3 linked regions of the Homo sapiens genome follow. The protein of the gene in region 3 purifies or fractionates together with the protein of the main gene of each other region. This does not show direct contact. Each region holds a gene or a part of one and is shown on either strand. Other genes may lie near its edges.

Region 1 (7,068 bases), on a different chromosome or scaffold from region 3:
GGTAGAGGACGATTTCCTGATGAAGGTGCTGGAGGGCATGGCCTTTGCTGGCTTTGTGTCAGAGCGTGGGGTCCCATACCGCCCTACGGACCTGTTCGATGAGGTGCACCTCCACCCTGCCCTCCCAGCCCCCTGCCCTGGCTCCGCCTGACCATGGCTTACCTAACCTCCTGCTTACCCCGCTAGCTGGTGGCCCACGAGGTGGCAAGGATGCGGGCGGATGAGAACCACCCCCAGCGTGTCCTGCGTCACGTCCAGGAACTGGCAGAGCAGCTCTACAAGAACGTACGAGGGTAGCAGGACGGGAGGGCGTCGTACCGCCTTGATCCCTGGGCCCCTGCCCCACACCTGCCGTCTCCCCACAGGAGAACCCGTACCCAGCCGTGGCGATGCACAAGGTACAGAGGCCCGGTGAGAGCAGCCACCTGCGACGGGTGCCCCGACCCTTCCCCCGGCTGGATGAGGGCACCGTGCAGTGGATCGTGGACCAGGCTGCAGCCAAGATGCAGGGTGCACCCCCAGCTGTGAAGGCCGAGAGGAGGACCACCGTGCCCTCAGGGCCCCCCATGAGTGCGTAATGAGGGAGGGGAAGGCAGGCCCCGAGCGTGGCCCAGGATGGGCGTGGGGTCAGGGGTCCGAGTGTGTGTATTCTGTCCCCGCAGCTGCCATACTGGAGCGGTGCAGTGGGCTGCATGTCAACAGCGCCCGGCGGCTGGAGGTTGTGCGCAACTGCATCTCCTACGTGTTTGAGGGGAAAATGCTTGAGGCCAAGAAGGTGAGGGCTGTGCAGGCTCCAGCCGGGCCAGGGCAGCGGGTTTCAGAGGAGACCCAGGCTGCACTTCACCCTTGTGAGTGCTGACGCTGCCCCAGGGCCTCCTCTGCCTAACAGACAGCTAGAGGTGGCTGGGCTGGCCGGAGGGTAGGTGGGCTCCAGGTCTCCTCTCTTGACCTCAGTGAGGGGTGGGTCGGGCCTGCGCGGGAGACCCAGCCAGGGAGATGTACTTCCATTTTTAGAAATCAGAAGGTTTCACTATTATGTTTCGTCTGTGTCCTTCCCCTTAAATTGGGTAGGCCCATACACGACCTGTTCTTTGTACTTGATGGAAAACAGAGCTTGCTCCCTCCATACGTGACCTGTTCCTTGCATCTTATGGAAACAGAGCTTTTTGCTCCTGCTGTTTTGCTCTCTGTGGTGCTCACTTAACGCCTCTGGGGTCTTTCATCATGGCCAGTTGGAGACTCTTGTTTTTCATTGGCTGTATGGTGTCCCTTTGGGGCGGCCAGTTTTGTGATGAACGTTGTAGCAATAGAACGCAAACTCCAAGGCTTTCTGTGGCCGGGCCTGTGCCAGGCGAGTCACTGAGCCAGCCAGGCAGCTGTGAGCCTGTGAGCAAGGGGGCCCGGCCCGCAAGGCCTCCCTCCGGAGCGCACCTCCCTGCCAGCTCACAGGTGCAGCATCTGCGTCCTTGTGTCTGGCCTGGTGAACTTGTACTTGTGGAGTTGTCGGGCCCACTGGAGGTTTTAGTCTTTATTGGTCGGCAAAGCCCCAGAGTCTGGCACACCCCACCTGAAAGGCATTTGGGTCTCCTGGACACCTGCTGCCCTCCCTGCCAGGGCCCCGAGTGGGTCTTCTCTGTGCCCTCAGCCCGTGTCTCCTTTCCCCACCCCCAGCTGCTCCCAGCCGTGTTGAGGGCCCTGAAGGGGCGAGCTGCCCGCCGCTGCCTCGCCCAGGAGCTGCACCTGCATGTGCAGCAGAACCGTGCGGTCCTGGACCACCAGCAGTTTGACTTTGTCGTCCGTATGATGAACTGCTGCCTGCAGGTGAGGCCTCTTATCCTGCTAGTGACATGGCTCATGGCGCATGAGCGGGAACAGGCGGGCAGACCCTGGTCTGTGAGTGAGAGTGGAGAGACGGTGCAAGAGACTCCTGTGCCAGTGGGCAGGGGTCCTCGGTCTGCAGGGAACAGGGTGGAGAGAACCATTGTTGGGGGCAGGTGCTGGGGCCTGGGGTCTCCTGATATTGAGCCTCTGAGGCAGCCTTGGGGAGCTGGAGCCAAGGGTGTCAGGTGCTGGTCTGTGGTGGTTATGGGGTGGTGGGGGCATGGTGGGAGGTGAGTGCTGCCTGGGAGGGGAGAGGTCCTGACGGTCTCTCGCTCTACCTGCAGGACTGCACTTCTCTGGACGAGCATGGCATTGCGGCGGCTCTGCTGCCTCTGGTCACAGCCTTCTGCCGGGTGAGTGCTGGCATGGCTGAGGTCTCCTTCCCAGCCCCCCCTTCCTGGTGGCTGAGGTCTCCTTCCCAGCCCCCCTTCCTGGTGGCCGAGGTCTCCTTCCCAGCCGCCCTTCCTGGCTGCATCCAGCTGACCTTCTCCCCTGGCTCCTGCAGAAGCTGAGCCCGGGGGTGACGCAGTTTGCATACAGCTGTGTGCAGGAGCACGTGGTGTGGAGCACGCCACAGTTCTGGGAGGCCATGTTCTATGGGGATGTGCAGACTCACATCCGGGCCCTCTACCTGGAGCCCACGGAGGACCTGGCCCCCGCCCAGGTGCGCAGGGACTCCCTGGGCTGGGGGCTGGGGGCTAGGGGCTGGGGCAGCGTGGCCCCGGCTCATGCGTGTGGTGCCGTGGCAGGAGGTTGGGGAGGCACCTTCCCAGGAGGACGAGCGCTCTGCCCTAGACGTGGCTTCTGAGCAGCGGCGCTTGTGGCCAACTCTGAGTCGTGAGAAGCAGCAGGAGCTGGTGCAGAAGGAGGAGAGCACGGTGTTCAGCCAGGCCATCCACTATGCCAACCGCATGAGCTACCTCCTCCTGCCCCTGGACAGCAGCAAGAGCCGCCTACTTCGGGAGCGTGCCGGGCTGGGCGACCTGGAGAGCGCCAGCAACAGCCTGGTCACCAACAGGTGAGGCAGGGACTGGGGGTTGGGCCCAGTGGAGGCGGGGCCGTGGTGGGCAGGGCCCATGCCCACAGTTTCTTCTCTGGCCCAGCATGGCTGGCAGTGTGGCCGAGAGCTATGACACGGAGAGCGGCTTCGAGGATGCAGAGACCTGCGACGTAGCTGGGGCTGTGGTCCGCTTCATCAACCGCTTTGTGGACAAGGTCTGCACGGAGAGTGGGGTCACCAGCGACCACCTCAAGGGGCTGCATGTCATGGTGCCAGGTACGGGGGTTTGGGCTGGTGATTCCCCCTTGGATGGGTGGGGCTGGGCACAAAGTGTGAGAACTGTCTTCCCCCAGACATTGTCCAGATGCACATCGAGACCCTGGAGGCCGTGCAGCGGGAGAGCCGGAGGCTGCCGCCCATCCAGAAGGTTTGCGGGGGCCGTTGGGGCTGCGGGGGCCCAAGGCCCGGGCTGCATCCTGAGCTCCTGCTCTTGTTTTCGAGCAGCCCAAGCTGCTGCGGCCGCGCCTGCTGCCGGGTGAGGAGTGTGTGCTGGACGGCCTGCGCGTCTACCTGCTGCCGGATGGGCGTGAGGAGGGCGCGGGGGGCAGTGCTGGGGGACCAGCATTGCTCCCAGCTGAGGGCGCCGTCTTCCTCACCACGTACCGGGTCATCTTCACGGGGATGCCCACGGACCCCCTGGGTGAGCCTGCAGACTCTCTGGCCCTGTCGCCCCCTCTCCCCCAGGTCTTTGGGATGGATGGGCTTTCCCTGCCTCCCTCTCCCTTTTCTCGGGGGTTCTGGGTGCCCGTGGGAAACGGGCCTTTGTCTGCTCCTTCCCCACCCACTTGGGATTCCCCATAACTGTGGTACCCTGAGATTCTGGGACCCCCCCCCCCTTACCTTCCTTGCTTCTGACTCTGCCTGGCCTGTCCTAAGTTGGGGAGCAGGTGGTGGTCCGCTCCTTCCCGGTGGCTGCGCTGACCAAGGAGAAGCGCATCAGCGTCCAGACCCCTGTGGACCAGCTCCTGCAGGACGGGCTCCAGCTGCGCTCCTGCACATTCCAGGTGGGGCGCGGTGCGCGGGTGGGGCTCTCATCCCCCGCCCTGGTCTTTCTCCTGCAAACCGGTCTTTCTTGTATGAACCATTTTTAGGCCAGTCTCCAGCAGTGGCCCTGTTGTTACGCTTGCATGTCTGGGGCCCTCACTGTGGCTCTTGAGTTGATGTCCACTGTTTGATGTGCGGTCTTTGGGTCCTTGTCCTTTCCTTGGGGCGCCGGCCCTCAAGTCCGTGTCTTGGGTGTGCCTTGCAAACCCAGGCCTCAGCTCACAGCCACTGAGATTTCGAGTTTACACAAGCGCTTGCCTTCGTGTGACACAGATACAGGCCTTTGCCTGGGGCCTGCTTCTCTCTCTGTCATGGCTGCGAGGGGAAGGGGAGCCTGGCAGTGTCAGAGTTGGGGGAGGGGCTGGGGGGCCACCCACACCCCTAAGGGCTGCTTTTACTGACACAGCTGCTGAAAATGGCCTTTGACGAGGAGGTGGGGTCTGACAGCGCCGAGCTCTTCCGTAAGCAGCTGCATAAGCTGCGGTACCCGCCGGACATCAGGGCCACCTTTGCGTTCACCTTGGGCTCTGCCCACACACCTGGCCGGCCACCGCGAGTCACCAAGGACAAGGGTCCTTCCCTCAGGTATGGATCTGGGTCCCAGGCAGGGCAGCTGGGCCTCAGCCGTGTTCCCGCTCCAACCCTCCTAGGCCCCTGTGCTCATCTTTGTCCCTCCTCCTCTCACCTTTGCTGACTCTCGTGGGCCTCAGAACCCTGTCCCGGAACCTGGTCAAGAACGCCAAGAAGACCATCGGGCGGCAGCATGTCACTCGCAAGAAGTACAACCCCCCCAGCTGGGAGCACCGGGGCCAGCCGCCCCCTGAGGACCAGGAGGACGAGATCTCAGGTGGAGGGGTGGGGGTGGAGTCCTGGGTGGTCTCTGGATGCTGACATTGGCCAGGGAGGATCAGGGCAGGCGGAGTGGCCCCGTGATGACCACGTGTGCCCGGCCTGTGCAGTGTCGGAGGAGCTGGAGCCCAGCACGCTGACCCCGTCCTCAGCCCTGAAGCCCTCCGACCGCATGACCATGAGCAGCCTGGTGGAAAGGGCTTGCTGTCGCGACTACCAGCGCCTCGGTCTGGGCACCCTGAGCAGCAGCCTGAGCCGGGCCAAGTCTGAGCCCTTCCGCATTTCTCCGGTCAACCGCATGTATGCCATCTGCCGCAGGTGAGGGCCGGCCAGGGCTGGCCCGGGTGGTGGACACGTGACTGGGTGTCTTCCCTGCCCGCTGTGGGCCTGGGCCACGGCTTCTGGTCATGTAAGGAATGTGGAGGGGGAGACTCCGGGCAGAGGGACGGGCCACAGGGCTGGGGGGTGGCTGGGGGGCCCCGTGGCTGAGCTGGAAGCGCCTCCTGCTGGGAGCCATGGGCTGGCTCCTCTTGCCCTGCTTGGGGCGTGAGCCTGGAGGCGGGTGGGGTCGCCAGCCACCTTCACGCCTCTGCCTCCTCTCAGCTACCCAGGGCTGCTGATCGTGCCCCAGAGTGTCCAGGACAACGCCCTGCAGCGCGTGTCCCGCTGCTACCGCCAGAACCGCTTCCCCGTGGTCTGCTGGCGCAGCGGGCGGTCCAAGGCGGTGCTGCTGCGCTCTGGAGGCCTGCATGGCAAAGGTGTCGTCGGCCTCTTCAAGGCCCAGAACGCACCTTCTCCAGGTACCTCCTGCGTCCTGCCCTGTGCCTGCCCTGCCCTATCTCACCCTCCCCTCCCTCAGCTCCGTGTCCTCCCCCAGGCCAGTCCCAGGCGGACTCGAGTAGCCTGGAGCAGGAGAAGTACCTGCAGGCTGTGGTCAGCTCCATGCCCCGCTACGCCGACGCGTCGGGACGCAACACGCTTAGCGGCTTCTCCTCAGCCCACATGGGCAGTCACGGTGAGGGTGCTTGTGGGCAGACGGTGGGGCAGGGGCACTTTGGGGGGCCGTGGTGGCATTTATGGTTTGGCAGGCAGGCCAGGGAGGAGCAGAAACGGCGCTGGTCATGGATGTTTGGGTGTGGGATGAGGAGCATGCCCTCCGGGTGCCGTGGGGCAGGGGCGGGAAGCCTGTCCAGACCAAGTGTGTGCCCAGACCAGGTGTGTGCCCTGACCTCCTGCCCGCCCTGACGTCCTGCCCGCTCTCCACCTCTGCGTCTGCTGCAGCTTCCTGTAGGGTCCTCCGGGTGCTGCCTCTACGCGGCTCTGTCTTACCATTTCCCACAGCCTGGAAACATCCCAGATGCTCCTCTGTCCTGTTCCCTCCCAGTGTCACTGTTTTTCCTCATCCCCCACACTCCACCCTCCCTGCATCCCCCAATCCAGACTGTCTTTGGAGCCTCTGGCCTGGCTCTGCCTGCAGCTTGGCCTCTGTCCTCGTGTGTCCTGGTTCCTTGGGCCTTGCCCGAGCTGGCCTTGCTGTCTCTGTCCCCACCGCCACGCACACTTCACAGGCGCCCTGCACACACTGAGCTAGACTGGCCCCAGGACGGGGTGGCAGATAGGCCCCACACTCACTCCTGTGTCCGGACCACCTGTTCTCTAGTTCAGAAGTGGTTTTGTTTTTCCAGATACCACATTATATACTTACATTTTACAATCGCCCTGTCTTGCTGCCTTCCCACCCCTGCCAGAAACCCTGAGTGGCATTTGCAGGTGGGGCCGCCCCTGCACCCCCCATGCCTGTGCTTCCCACAGAGTCCCTTTTGCGTCTCCGACCATCCCCAGTGCCAGTGGCTGCTGCCTCCCCGTGTCCCCCTCAGTGCCCAGCAATGCTCAGGGGCTCAAGCTTCACTCAGCTGTAGTCGTGGCTTCTAGTCCCAGCCCTGACCTTTTTTTTTTTTTTTTTTTGAGTCGGAGTCTTTCTCTGTCACCCACGCTGGAGTGCGGTGGTGCGATCTCGGCTCACTGCAAGCTCCACCTCCCAGGTTCACGCCATTCTCCTGCCTCAGCCTCCCGAGTAGCTGGGACTACAGGTGCCCGCCACCGCGCCCGGCTGATTTTTTTGTATTGTATTTTTAGTAGAGACAGGGTTTTACCGTGTTAGCCAGGATGATCTCGATCTCCTGACCTGGTGATCCGCCCGCCTCGGCCTCCCAAAGTGCTGGGATTACAGGCGT
Region 2 (8,251 bases), about 86 Mb from region 3:
AGATGAGCCAGGAACAGGTTCTTGTGCCAAAAAGTACAAAGTTGTTCTCAAAGAGTGATGGGGATGTACCATAAGAACACAGAAGCCAGCTTGTACAACTCTCATTGGCCATATAAAGAACAATTTGAACATCAAAATAAATAATGCTATAGTCTGAATGTGTATGTCCCCTCCCAAAATTCGTATGTTAAAATCCTAACACCCAAAGTGATGGTATTATGAGGTGAGGCCTTTAGGAAGTGATCAGGTCATGGTGGTGGAGTCCTTGTGAATGGGATTAGTTCCCTTTTTAAAGAGACCCCAGAGAGCTCATTTGACCCTTAAGCCATATGAGGTTAAAGTGAGAACATGGCTATGAGGAAGCATGTCCTCACCAGACACTGAATCTGTCAGAGTCTTCATCTTGGATTTCTCTGCCTCCAGACTGTGAAAAATAAATTTCTATTGTTTATAAGCCACCCAGTTTGAGGTATTTTTGTTATAACAGCCCGAATGGACTAAGGCAAATAGTAACAGAATATAATCCGCGAGCTCCCCTTTCTGGTCTCACTTCGGCTGGATGTGCTTAGACTCTCCTATTTCCCACTCAAGCCAGTGCTTCGGGCAGGTGGGCTAGTGACTTTTTCCGAATAGACTAAGGCAAATAGTAACAGAATATAATCCACTAAACACACACACACACACACACACACACACACACACACACACAGACTCCATGTAGATGTCAATAAATGATTAAGAGTTTAGTGAGGAACAAGATATTTACATAGTTTCAAAGTACATGGCAAAAACAATTAAGTATTAACTTTACAGTGGAGAAGCCTCGCAGATATTACTTATATCAAGTAATCAAAGTAAAAATAACCAACAATGAAACAAAGTGAAATTGTGCACCACCTGACAGGATGCAGTGAGCATCACTTCTGTGATATCCTTCCCACGTGCATATTCGTATGTATCTAATCATGAAGGAACAGACAATCCCAAATTGAGGGGGCAGCCTACAAAGTGACTGACCTGTAATTGTTAAATATGTTAAGGTCATGAAAGTCAGGAGAAGATAAAGGAAATGTTCCAGATTGAGGGAGACAAAAGAGACATAACATGAATGCAACACATATTGCTAAACTGGATCCTTTTGCCAGTAAAGAGATTACTAGCACAATCAACAAAACTTGAACCAGTCTGAGAACTAGATGGAGTACTGTATCACTATCCATTTCCTGTTTTGGTTATTACACTGTGATCATGTAGGAGAACATTCTTGTTTGCAGAAAATGCACATTAAAGTATTCTGGGATGACAGGGCATCAGGTCAACAGCTTCCTCTCAAATTGTTGGGGGGCGGGTAGAATTTTTTGTACCATTCTTGCAACTTTTTTGCAAGTCTGTTATTGTTTCAACATTGTTGGCCGGGCGTGGTGGCTCAAGCCTGTAATCCCAGCACTTTGGGAGGCCGAGGCCGGTGGATCACGAGATCAGGAGTTCAAGACCAGCCTGGCCAGGATGGTGAAATCCCGTCTCTACTACAAATACAAAAATTAGCGGGCGTGTTGGCGGGCGCCTGTAAATCCCAGCTACTCCGGAGGCTGAGGCAGAGAATTGCTTCAACCCGGGAGACAGAGGTTGCAGTGAGCCAAGATCGCACCACTGCACTCCAGCGTGGGCAACAGAGCAAAACTCCGTCTCAAAAAAAAAAAAAAAAAAAATTGTTTAAAAGTGGGGAGGGGGGGAGGCGGAACAATGTCACTAAAAACTAAAGGTTAAAAAACTGATTTCCCACACTTAATCTTGATAGAAAAGAAACATCAGACTATGCCAAATTACTAGGAAATAAAATTTTGGATCCAGAAGTTTAAACATTTAAACTTTCTCTTTAACAATTGACCTCAATCAGGTCATGACTGGTGAAAGAGAAAAGAACATGAAAGGTTCCCACTAAAGGAGAGGAAGTTCTTAGGAGAGGAATAATGAAAGAGAGAGTGGACCAAGAGTGGGTAGAACAATGGTATTCTGAGCTACCAATGGCTGTAACCATCAGGAAAACACAATCTCAGCATCTCTGAAAAATGAAGGGGCTGTAGAGCTGATATCTCAAATTCCTTGCAAATGTGGGACTAGAATTGCCCTAAAATAGAAGTGGTTTCCCAGCTCAATTTGTTATTACATTATGCTTAGCTACATAGTAATACAAGAGAATACAAATACAGAAATAAACGTGCATGAACCCTGAATTCTCTTAAGTTGTGGAAGTCCGTCAATTAAAGTGTAAAATACAATGCATTTGCCCAATTGTTCCTTACGACGAAAATTCTGTGACAAATAAAAAGAACAATGAAAACACATTAAAGTGAAACAAGATCACCTTCAGCGGTCAGCTGGCTGTCCTTAGTTAAAAGACAAGTCATGTCACTGTGAAGTGACCGTCACATTTGTCCTGAAAGAATAGGGAGCATTTCCTAGAAAGGGGTAAAAGTGCAAAGAATCCTGTCCCCTTCCCTGGTACCACGCGTTCCTTGGGGAGGTCACTAGGCCCCCAACAGCACAGGGGTGAGTTAGCACTGGACTCTCAGCACTTCCTTTCGGAGAGGACAACCCCCTGCGTCACTGGTTACTCACTCAGGATGCAGGGCAGAAGTTTATCCCCGAGGAACTTAGCACAGTTGGCTCCCGCCCTCCCAGCCTTGCGGTCCTGGGCCCAATCTCAGGGCTCTCTCTGCCCCGGGTACCCTGCAGCCTCCAGCGGGAGGGTCGCGAGACCCCAACTCGCCTCCGGCCCGCCCAGCGGGTGCGCCCAGGGGCTGGGCAGACGCGGCGTCTTCCCTCCCCCTACCGTCGTGCCGGCCCCCCCACGCCCACCGCCAGGCTCAGCCCAGCCGAGAAGGCCGGACGCCGACCGCCCGCTCCTCCGAGACTCGGCCTGGCCCTCCCCGACGCCCGTCCCCGACGCCCGGCCCCGCGGAGCCCACTGGACAGCGGCCGGGGGGCGGGGAGGCCCGGGGGCGGTGCCGCCCCACACCCTTACCTGGCTTCTCGTGGTCATAGCCTACCACGATGAAGTAGTCAGCCAGCCGGGCCATGGCCGCCGCCGCCGCGCTCGGGAAGCGGGTCCCCGTCGCCGCCCTCGCCGCCGCCGCCCACCCGGCCCGGGAGGGCTCAGCATTTTCCCTGCAGCGGCAGTAGCGGCAGCGGCAGCGCTTCAGCCATGTTTGACAACCGAGGCGCGCTCTGCGCTTGCGCGGCGCCTAGTGCCCGCTCCTCCCCCGCCCCCACCCGCGCTGGCTCGGCTGCCCCAAGCCCGGGCGGCGAGCCCACCTCCACCCTCCGCGGGCCTCGCGGACTGCTGCGCTGGGGGAGTGGGCGGTCGGGCGTGTTCCCGCCACGCGCCGCCACCGCGGCCCCTGGAGGTGGTTCACTTTGAGGCCTGGATGCTGCTTCACGGCCCCCTCTGCCTCCCTATTTTTCCTAAAGCAGGGGGTCCTTCCTTCCGCCTTCTCTATTCTGTTTGGATTTGGAAGAAGGGATGTGGAGAGTTGAGGGGTCACTTGGAAAGCTGGCTGCTTCCTCTGCTCCCCACCACCACCAAAGATGAAATTCTCCCGCCCTCGGTTGGAAGCAAGGAATTTGCATCGACAGGGCTTTTGCTGCACGTTTCCTGTTTATGTTGTGTAGATGGGAATTTTAGAAACATGCCACCGAGCAGACGGGGGAGGGAGAGGCTTTTACGCAATCCTCCAAGGAGCCTCGGGTTTCAATGCCGGGTGGGCCGGGGGCGGTCGGCCTGGGCTTCCCCCGGAGCGCCCGGGAGAGCCAGATTCCACCGAGGAACGCGGCATCCCCGGGATCCTCCCGAACTGGGCTGGCCTCTCCCTGGGGAGCCCCGCACGCCTCGGCTTGCTTCCCTCGCAGCGGTCCCAGGGCTCTCGCAGCCCGAGCAGGTGGACTTCCAACTTCCCTGCTCAAACATGCACAAAAATGAATAGATGGTCCCGTCCTTCCGTCTCGGGATTATCAAAGTCGCTTGCTTTTTTGTTGAACCTCCTATTGACCATTTCGAATTTGGCTGGTGTGACATTCAGGTGAACTCACTTTGTCATTTGTTAATATCTCACGAAGTTTTAGTAGAATTTGTACAAGTGGTAGACCAAAGTTTTGGAAATCTCCGTGGTTTAGAAGTTGTCTTTGTGGTTGCTTATCACTGCTCACTATTAATTGAGGGTTTGATCCTTCATATTTACACATAAGACAAGGCCTCTTAGCAAAGCGTCTAGTATATAGTAGGTGCCTACAAAATATTTTAAATGAGTAAATGTGCGATTTTCCCCAACGACCAGCAGGAAGCCGCAATGGCTCCAACTCTGAACTGAGAGAGTTGACATCTCAGCTCCTGAAGATTTACTCTGCTGTAATTTACTATTTCCCCTTTCTCTGCCACACTTGTTTCATCTACAAATTGGGAGGGTTGGGCTGCACTAGAACTGAAACTGAAGGAATACTTTAACTCCAGGACCTCTATGTCAGTTGCTAATGGTAAAACTGAATCAGCTGAATTTGCAAACGTGGAGGGAAGATAGTTTGATCCTGAAAATAATTAAACCAAAAAAAAAAAAACCTCAGTCATACCCCGTGCAGCAATCCTCTCTGTAACTTCCCTGAGAGCTCATCATCCAACTTGATCACTTTCAGTAAAAAGTAATCTTACTTCCTTGGGAGGCAGCGCATTCCACTGTTTAACAGCCCTATTGTTAGAAAGTTCTTCCTTATTATTTCAGAGTTGTCTTACTGTAACTTCCCCTGATTCTGCTCTCCGGAACTATCCAGAAAAAAAAAATCTATCTTCATATGATAGATTTTTAAGGCAGCTATCATATTCCTTCCCAACTTTTCTAAAAATAGGGCAAAATTCACATATTGTAAAATTAGCCACTTGAAAATGTAGAATTCAGTGGCAATTAAGTACATTCCCAATGCTGTACAACTACCATGTCTATCTAGTTACAAAACATTTTCATCACCCAAAAGAAAACCTCACAACCATTAAGCAGTCATTCTCATTCTCCCCTCCCACAGCCCCTGGCAATCACCATTTTGCTTTCTGTCTCTATGGATTTACCTATTATGAATATTTCATATTCATATCATACAATATGTGGGTTTTTTGTGTCTTGGTTTTTCTCACTTAGTATATTGTTCTCAGCTTGTTTACGGGCAGATACAGTACAAGGTTGTAGCATCACATTGAAGTATCAATACTTCATTATTTTTTATGACTCAATAATATTCCATTGTATATTGTGTTAGACTGTTCTCACGGTGCTAATAAAGACATACCCGAGACTAGGTAATTTATAAAGAGAAGAGGTTTAATTGACTCACAGTTCCACATGGCGGAAGGCAAGGAGAGCAAAGCGGCAGACAAGAGAGCTTATGCAGAACTCTCCTTTATACCATCAAATCTCATAAAACTTATTCACTATCACCACAACAGCAGGAGAAAGACCCGCCCCCATGATTCAATTACCTTCCACCGGATCCCTCCCATGACAGGTGGGAATTATGGGGTACAATTCAAGATGAAATTTGGGTGAGGACACAGCCAAACCATATCATATGTATATACCATATTTTGTTTATCTGGAACAACCCATATGGACATATGGGTTGTTTCCACCTTTTGGCATTGTGAATAGTGCTGCTTCAAACATGCATGTACATGTATTTGAGTACCTGTTTTCAATTTTGGGGATATATTCTTGGGATTGGAATTACTGGATTAAGTAGTTCTGTTACTACTGTTTTCCACAGTGGCTGCATCATTTTACATTTTCACCAGCAATGCACTAGGGTTCTGATTTCTCTGCATCTTTGTCAACTCTTGTTTTCCTGTTGTTTATGTTTTGTTATAGCTATCTTAGTGTGAAGTGATATCTCATTGTGGTCCTGTTTTGCCTTTCCCTAAAGACTAATGATGTTGAGGATCTTTTCATGTGTTTATTGGCCATTGCTAAATCTTCTTTGGAGAAATGTCTATTCAAGTCCTTTGCCCATTTTTTAATTGATTCTTTGTCTTTTTGAGGTTGAGTTGTAAGAGTTCTTTATATATTCTGGATACTAGTCCTTGTCAGATATATGATTTGCAGATATTTTCCCATTCTGTACGTTGTCTTTTCATTTTCTTTTTAAAATTGTTATGCCCTATTCCCCCCCCCAAATATTTCCTATTTTTATTTTATTTTTCATTTTATTTTTATGTAGAGATGTTGTATCATGATGTTGCCCAGGCTGGTCTTAACCTCCTGTCCTCAGGCAATCCTCCCACCTAGCCCTCCCAAGGTACTAGGATTAGAGGCATGAGCTTCCACACCCAGACTTCATTTTCTTGATAATGTCCTTTGGCTCAAAAAAGTTTTTAATTTTGATAAAGTCCACTTTTTTAGTTTGTTTCTATGCTTTTAGTGTTATATCTAAAAAATTATTGCCATATTAAAGGTGAGATGAAGATTTACTGGTTTCCTTCATAGTTTTAGCTCTTTAGTACTTTGACCCATTTTGAGTTAATTTTGTAGTGGTAAGGGGTCTTGTTTTACCTTTTAAATGTCTTGGCTTTTATTTCATTTGCAAGTACTCATTTAAATTATTTTAATTTTTTAAAATCAAAGTTTATTGTTTTTAAGCCTAGAATCAAATGCTATTCTGCTTTTAGGCATATTTCATCTGTTACTGTCATAAGTAGACTTCCAGTCCATTTGCAAATGCCCATTTTGTCACACAGAGATTTTAACATATCCTAGGTACATGTAGAAAGGCACTGTGTGTTTGTATATACATGTGAACATATTTTGTATACACTAAAGCTGTGCTTTGCTTCTCAGCCAACAGCTGCCAGCCTGTTGAAACTGATAAGCCCTGACAAGGCAGCCTGATTACTGAGGTTGGCTGAAAGCCAGACCATCCCCTACAATAACCACCATCACCTTTCACCAAAGAGAGAGAGAGTAAAGCAAGCCCAGATTTGTTTTCCTGAAGGCTGATGGGAGCAGGAAGGGAAGAAGGGTATGTAACACTATCATGATGTGTATGTGGCAGATACCTTTCTTTTTTGCTTTAGAAGACGAAATAGATGGAATGCGGTGGCTCACACCTGTAATCCCAGCACTTTGGGAGGCCGAGGCAGGTGGATCACCTAAGGTCAGGAGTTCAAGACCAGCCTGACCAACATGGTGAAACCCTGTCTCTACTAAAAACACAAAAATTAGCTGGGCATGGTGGCAGGTGCCTGTAATCCCAGCTACTTGGGAGGCTGAGGCAAGAGAATTGCTTGAACCCAGGAGGCAGAGGTTGCAGTGAGCCAAGATCGCGCCATTGCACTCCAGCCTGGGCAACAAGAGTGAAACTCCCGTTCAAAAAATTAAAATAAAAAATTTTAAAAAAGACAAAATAGAGCTAATTATCAGTGAGCAAGGCTTATCAGCCCATTGCCCCTAGTGGGCTATTGCGGAGTAAGTGGTTTGATCTGTACAGTCATTTCAAGTGCTTGCTGTGGTTAGCCACAGTAGTTCAAGGAGGCAGTATGAGAGTCAGACTTGAGCAAACATCACCAGGCAGGGCTGAGGCCTCTTCAGATCGTCTCTACCAAAGCATAACAAAGGAGACTATGCAGCTGTGGTGGAAAATTCCCTGATCCATTGCTATATTTTCAACCATTTAGTTCCCTAAGCAAGAAATTTAATGAATCTTACCCTTGACAGCTGCCTCTCAGCCCCACATTCATCACTCAGTCCTATTGTTCCTACTTCCCAAATATGTCCGCTTCTCTCCACCCTCACTGCCACCCCACTAGTTTGAGCCGTTATCACCTTCTACCTTTATTATTGCAATAGGTTCTTAACTGTTTTCCCAGCTTCACCGATGGTTTCAAACTTTCTATATAGGTAAAAGTTAAGGACAGTAAGCAGGTTATTGAACCTGTCTCAAAATTAAATTTGTATAGCAAACACACCATTTCTACCTTGAGTGTGTGTTTGGGGTGCAAAGAAAAGGCTTCATAGATGACGTAGAAAGTGTCCTGGCCAGGTGTGGTGGCTCACGCCTGTAATCGCAGCACTTTGGGAGGCCAAGTTGGGCGGATCATGAGGTCAGCAGATCGAGATCATCCTGGCTAACACGGTGAAACCCTGTCTCTACTAAAAATACAAAAAATTAGCCAGGAGTGGTGGCGGGCACCTGTAGTCCCAGCTACTCAGGAGGCTGA
Region 3 (5,194 bases):
GGTATCACTGTTAAGTGGGGTTGGTATTAAGAAGAAATGGTGTAAGGATTACATTTCAAGTTTTACTTCTTTATCAAAACTTGTCTATCCTATGTATCAACATCTTAATCATCTTGATTGGTATCTCCCTCTGCATCAACTTTTATTCTAAAAAATGTGGTTACAAAGTATTTATGTTTTATTTTATAAAGCACAGTAGGAATAAGTACTTGCACTGAAGCCCAGTTGCTGGGTTCAAATCCTGGATCTATCACTTACTGTAACAGTTCGCTTGGGGAAGTTAATGTCTGCTTTTGTAAAATTATGAAGATTATTAAATAAGCAATACAAAATACCACAAGAACTGCTATGTAGTATTTCCTAGACTTCCTTAAAGGCAGGTATTAAATTTTTAAATTCACCTTATGTCTTCAGTGTCTAGCATGCAGTAAGTATTTCTATGCATAGCAGGCACTCAACAACTTAAGGAATGTTCATTAGAAATAGCATAGCTAAGTTTCGAAGAGTTTTATTTTTTGAGAGCCTTGGGGTAGGAATCATTGATTATTTTTAAAAAAACTTTTTAAATTGATAATAATATGCATACCATGAAATTCACTTTGATAGTGTATAGTTGACTGGTTTTTAGTATATCTGAGTTGTACAGCCATCACATTTTCATTTCAGAACATTTCATCACCTCAGAAAACCTGTTAATAGTCACTCCCCATTCACCCCTGCCAAACACTAATGTTTTTGTCTCTAGATTTGCCTCTTCTGGACATTTCATATAAATGGAATCATTTAATATGTAAACCTTGTGTCTAGCTCCTTTCCTTTAATATGCTTTCAAGGTTCATACATTTTATATCATTTCTTTTTATGGCTGAATAATATTCCATTGTGTGGATATATTTTACTTATCCATTCGTCAGTTGATGGACTTTTAGGTTGTTCCCACTTCTTGGCTGTTAATGAATAATGCTGCTTTGAACATCTATAAAAAAGTTTTTGTACAGACATGTCTTCTGTTTGCTGGATATGTACAAGAGTGGAATTGTTGGGTCATATGGTATCTCTTTGAGGAACTGCATACTGTTTTCCAGTACCCTCTGATCTTAATATAAGTTGGTTTATCACTGAAGTCTCCAAGTCCACTTCCTCTAAAGAGATTTTAATGACAACAAAGTACTTCTTCACAAATTTCATCTAAAGTGTAAATGGCTTATGTGGTGGAGAATCTTTACCTATTTTTCCTGCCTACAGAATCTTCCTAAAAGGACTGTGTCACTGTGGTCTTACATAAACAGCCAGCTGGAAGACTTCACTAATCCTCTCTATGGGAGCTATTCCAATCATGTCCTTTATCCAGTAGCCAGCATGCGCCACCTAGAGCTCTGGGTGGGATATTACATAAGGTGGAATCCACGGATGAAACCACAGGTATGTGCCTTACAATATACAATGGGAGTTTTCATTCATGCAGTGCAACTTTGTCTCCTTAAAAGCAGCTGGAAAGATTATCTGTGCATATTTAAAACTTTACTCCTTACCCATTGATAGTTAACAATCGTATAGTAGAAAAATACTACACTGGGGCAGGGTAATCAGTATACCTGGTTCTTAGGACTGCTTGTATGACATTGGACAAATCACTGCTCTCTTTTCTTGCATCTTCCCTCCTCTGTCTGGATAACCTCTAGGGGGTCTTGTTTTAATAAGCTGAAGAAAGTAGCTTTAGGAAAGTTAAAAGCTGAACAAAATTCTGGTCTACTGTGAATATGTTTATGGAATATTAACTACTTAGAACTGTTTAAGACTAAAAACCTATAAATAACAGGGAATCTTCTGACTACTGTCTTTTAATTGTCTTGTTAATTATTTGTTGTATTTGGAAAAGTACCAGTTTCAGGAGCACCTACACAGCAGGTTATTCTTTGGAAATACTCAGGGGCACTGGGAAAGCCAGTGAAAAGATTAGTGGTGTCCACAGTCCCGGTATTTAATTTCACTGATGGGTTGGAAAGGTGCCATTGGTTCCAACAGCTGAAAAAACATACACTGCAACATTTAGGGAATGATTTGACCTGGCTTTGGTCAGGATTGCCTAGTTGAATATTTTATGTTTTGCTCTTGCAGGAACCTATTCACAACAGATACAAAGAACTTCTTGCTAAACGAGCAGAGCTTCAGAAAAAAGTAGAGGAACTACAGAGAGAGATTTCTAACCGATCAACCTCATCCTCAGAGAGAGCCAGCTCTCCTGCACAGTGTGTCACTCCTGTCCAAACTGTTGTATAAAGGACTGTAAGATCAGGGGCATCATTGCTATACACTCTTGATTACACTGGCAGCTCTATGAGTAGAAAGTCTTCGGAATTTAGAACCCATCTATGAGAGAAAGTTCAGTCACTTTATTTATTTTAAATCTCTCTAGGATGAGTTTAGAACTGTAGCAGTGCAGGTGGCTTAAGTGAAGTAACTCCATATGTAATTACATGATTATGATACTAATCTTTTAAGTATCCAAAGAATATTAAAATACTTCAATCCTGGATTCACAGTGGGAACAAGTTTCTATTAAAAGGCAAATGCTGTTACAAATTTTTGGCATCTGGTAATATTAAAACCATTTTAGAAATACACTCTGTGCTCACTGTGCAGAGGAACATCAGTTTTCAAACCAACACTGAAATTCTGTGGCATCACATATATTGGGCCTTGATGTCATGACAGATCAAAATCATTTGATATCCCTTTCTCCATTCTAGGTTTTTCTTTTTTTCAGTAACTGATTTACCTTGATCACTTTTCAACTTCCATATTCTTCATATAGTAAAAGGCAAAGTGTTGAAGATACTACGGTGTGGTAGTAGTTGAAAATTATTGCCGTCATTATTTACATACTTAAGACATATTAGCAAGTTGATCCAAAATGGGAGGCCTTATAGATGTGCTTGGGGGAAAATGAAGGGGAGAAAGTAGCCATACAGGAGTTCAAAGAATTCCATGCCCTTCAGATTAGCCCAATTACCAGAAACATCATGAAAGATATTTTAAAAACTAATTATTTACTACAGTGTATTTCACTTGTCTTGTGTGTCTGAACACACAGAAGCTAATTAGCAAGTTTTTAAGAAGTATTTAAAAATCTTACTAGGATTGACATTTTTTCTGAATTCTGTATAAATAGCTTATAGTGAGAAGTACTGTGCTCAAATTTTACATTTTTTTCCTTTGCAAATTCTGTAATTTCACTCAACGATTAAGTCTACCAAAGAACACACTGCATGTAAAAGATGTATTACAATCTCAAAGCCAGTAAAAGAAATCTTGCTTCACTGTTCACCTGCTACAAGTAAGAGTTTGGTGCTGGTAGAAACATTTGACTCTGATGTCTATTTTATTCTACATAAGAGCCATATGTAATGTACTGTAACAAAGGAGCTTCTTGTCCCCTTGGTCTTTTAATTAAAAGAAATTCCAACTGACTTTTAAACTTTGTTCTTGTCCAAAGTTGCCATTTCTTTTTTTTCCCCAGAAATATTTGGAAATTATTGGAGGAATATGCACCCCAGATGAAAATGTTCAGTTTGTACCCATTTTTCCTTAACCAACACCCAAATCAAACAATTAAAATATACAGTGTTTTTCCACTCACTAATTCACTATACAGAGAGTCTGAACCTTAGCCTCCCTCTTGGTCTTGCAGTGAGGAAGTTTCTATTAGTATATCCAATTTAGCAAAATTGGTACCAAAATGATTTCTTTGGTAATTGTGTGAAATATAAGCTTTTTAACAGGGCATTTAAGTGGCTAGCAAATCAGTAATTAAAAATTAAGCTTTCTACTCCAAGTATTTCACAAACGCATCTGCCATTTTCCTCATTTAAACCTTGGTTATCTTGGCCTGATACCACATAAAAGAATGTAGAATGGCTGAAGAGATCAAGAATTTAAAGCTTCTAGTCTTAACATACTTGCATCCACTTCAAATTCAAATCAAAAGCCAGGGAAATCTAAGTGCAACCCTACCACTTCTCTGCTGAGAACCTTCCAGTGGTTCCCCTCACCTTCTGCAGAAGTCTCCAATATGGAGTACATGCACTTGGGCATTTAATATATACCACTGGTGTGTGTGGGAGGGAGGGAGGAGGAATACTAGCCCTTTTTATATATTTACACAAGCAAAACTTTTAAATATTTGAATTGACAGTTACATGTTTCATAACTTTGTATGTCTATTGGTTGTGCAGGTGTAATTTTTTCCCTTTTTGATTAGGGTTACAAAATTTAGAGACCAGTATGATTAAGTTGAAGCTCCTTAGCCTCCTTCGACCTAGTCTCTGCATACCTCAACTTTTACGTACCAATGCTACTCTGCTGTTCACAATTGCCTCATGTAATCTGCAGATTCCTGCCTCCCCACTTTGGTTCAGTCTGTCTTGTGCACCTGGAACAACTGTTCTCCCTTGTGACTAATTCCTATTTTCTAGAGTTTAGGCATCATCTCTTCCTTTGGGAAGTTATCTGATTCACGACTGCCTTCTCTGACATCCCCACCTTCCTCTGTGCCCCCATAGCACTGTGTATACCGCTACTACCACTGCAATTCACATTATATTGGAATGAACAATTCACATGTCTACCACAAGTCTGTAAACATAACCTTATTTGAAATGAATTGCAATAAAGCTCTGTTACAACGTAAGTGGATGGATGACACATTCCTCTACTGTAAACTTGCAGATAAGAAAATGGAAGCAGTATTTTTTCACTTCTCACCTGACAGTACAAAAAGCTGGAGTAGTTCAGTTTGAATCCTAGCTGAGAAAAGGGGTGGGATTTAGCATCATTCAATCACCATTCTCCTAATTAGGACTCAGAGCCACTACAATTCAAATGATGGTTATACAATTTAATGACCTGAAATTCAAACAAGGAGATAACAGGAGTTTTTAATAGCTGAAATGGTGGTTGACACATATATTTATCATGTCACCAGAGCACTGTTTCTCACTTCCCTTGTGTCTATGGGCTCACAATTATTAATTCAATCAAGCTACGAACCTACTCATTAGAAAACTGGACACAGAAGCACAAGTTTACAATTTCAGGAGAGTCACAAATAATACCCCAAAATCTTAAGGATCCTAAATTAAAGCCTGTTACTGTAGTATCTTGTATCATGAGGAAATCTAATATTCTTGGGCTC

Evidence for each region.
Region 1: the proteins of MTMR2 (region 3) and SBF1 purify together in Homo sapiens (affinity purification with mass spectrometry; 6 studies listed by BioGRID and IntAct, with this or other methods). This does not show direct contact.
Region 2: the proteins of MTMR2 (region 3) and SBF2 purify together in Homo sapiens (affinity purification with mass spectrometry; 3 studies listed by BioGRID and IntAct, with this or other methods). This does not show direct contact.

What each region holds. Positions count from the first base shown.
Region 1 is NC_000022.11:50,458,036-50,465,103, reverse strand, and holds part of SBF1 (myotubularin-related protein 5), read left to right. Parts: coding exon 1-103; intron 104-186; coding exon 187-285; intron 286-365; coding exon 366-570; intron 571-662; coding exon 663-775; intron 776-1,671; coding exon 1,672-1,821; intron 1,822-2,165; coding exon 2,166-2,234; intron 2,235-2,386; coding exon 2,387-2,545; intron 2,546-2,630; coding exon 2,631-2,899; intron 2,900-2,984; coding exon 2,985-3,157; intron 3,158-3,234; coding exon 3,235-3,308; intron 3,309-3,385; coding exon 3,386-3,581; intron 3,582-3,817; coding exon 3,818-3,945; intron 3,946-4,391; coding exon 4,392-4,570; intron 4,571-4,695; coding exon 4,696-4,832; intron 4,833-4,944; coding exon 4,945-5,152; intron 5,153-5,437; coding exon 5,438-5,634; intron 5,635-5,711; coding exon 5,712-5,849; intron 5,850-7,068. UniProt on the Homo sapiens protein: Acts as an adapter for the phosphatase MTMR2 to regulate MTMR2 catalytic activity and subcellular location. Promotes the exchange of GDP to GTP, converting inactive GDP-bound Rab proteins into their active GTP-bound form.
Region 2 is NC_000011.10:10,290,990-10,299,240, forward strand, and holds the start of SBF2 (myotubularin-related protein 13), read right to left. Parts: upstream 3,231-8,251; 5' UTR 3,081-3,230; coding exon 3,026-3,080; intron 1-3,025. UniProt on the Homo sapiens protein: Guanine nucleotide exchange factor (GEF) which activates RAB21 and possibly RAB28. Promotes the exchange of GDP to GTP, converting inactive GDP-bound Rab proteins into their active GTP-bound form.
Region 3 is NC_000011.10:95,832,376-95,837,569, reverse strand, and holds the end of MTMR2 (phosphatidylinositol-3,5-bisphosphate 3-phosphatase MTMR2), read left to right. Parts: intron 1-1,245; coding exon 1,246-1,422; intron 1,423-2,118; coding exon 2,119-2,280; 3' UTR 2,281-4,690; downstream 4,691-5,194. UniProt on the Homo sapiens protein: Lipid phosphatase that specifically dephosphorylates the D-3 position of phosphatidylinositol 3-phosphate and phosphatidylinositol 3,5-bisphosphate, generating phosphatidylinositol and phosphatidylinositol 5-phosphate.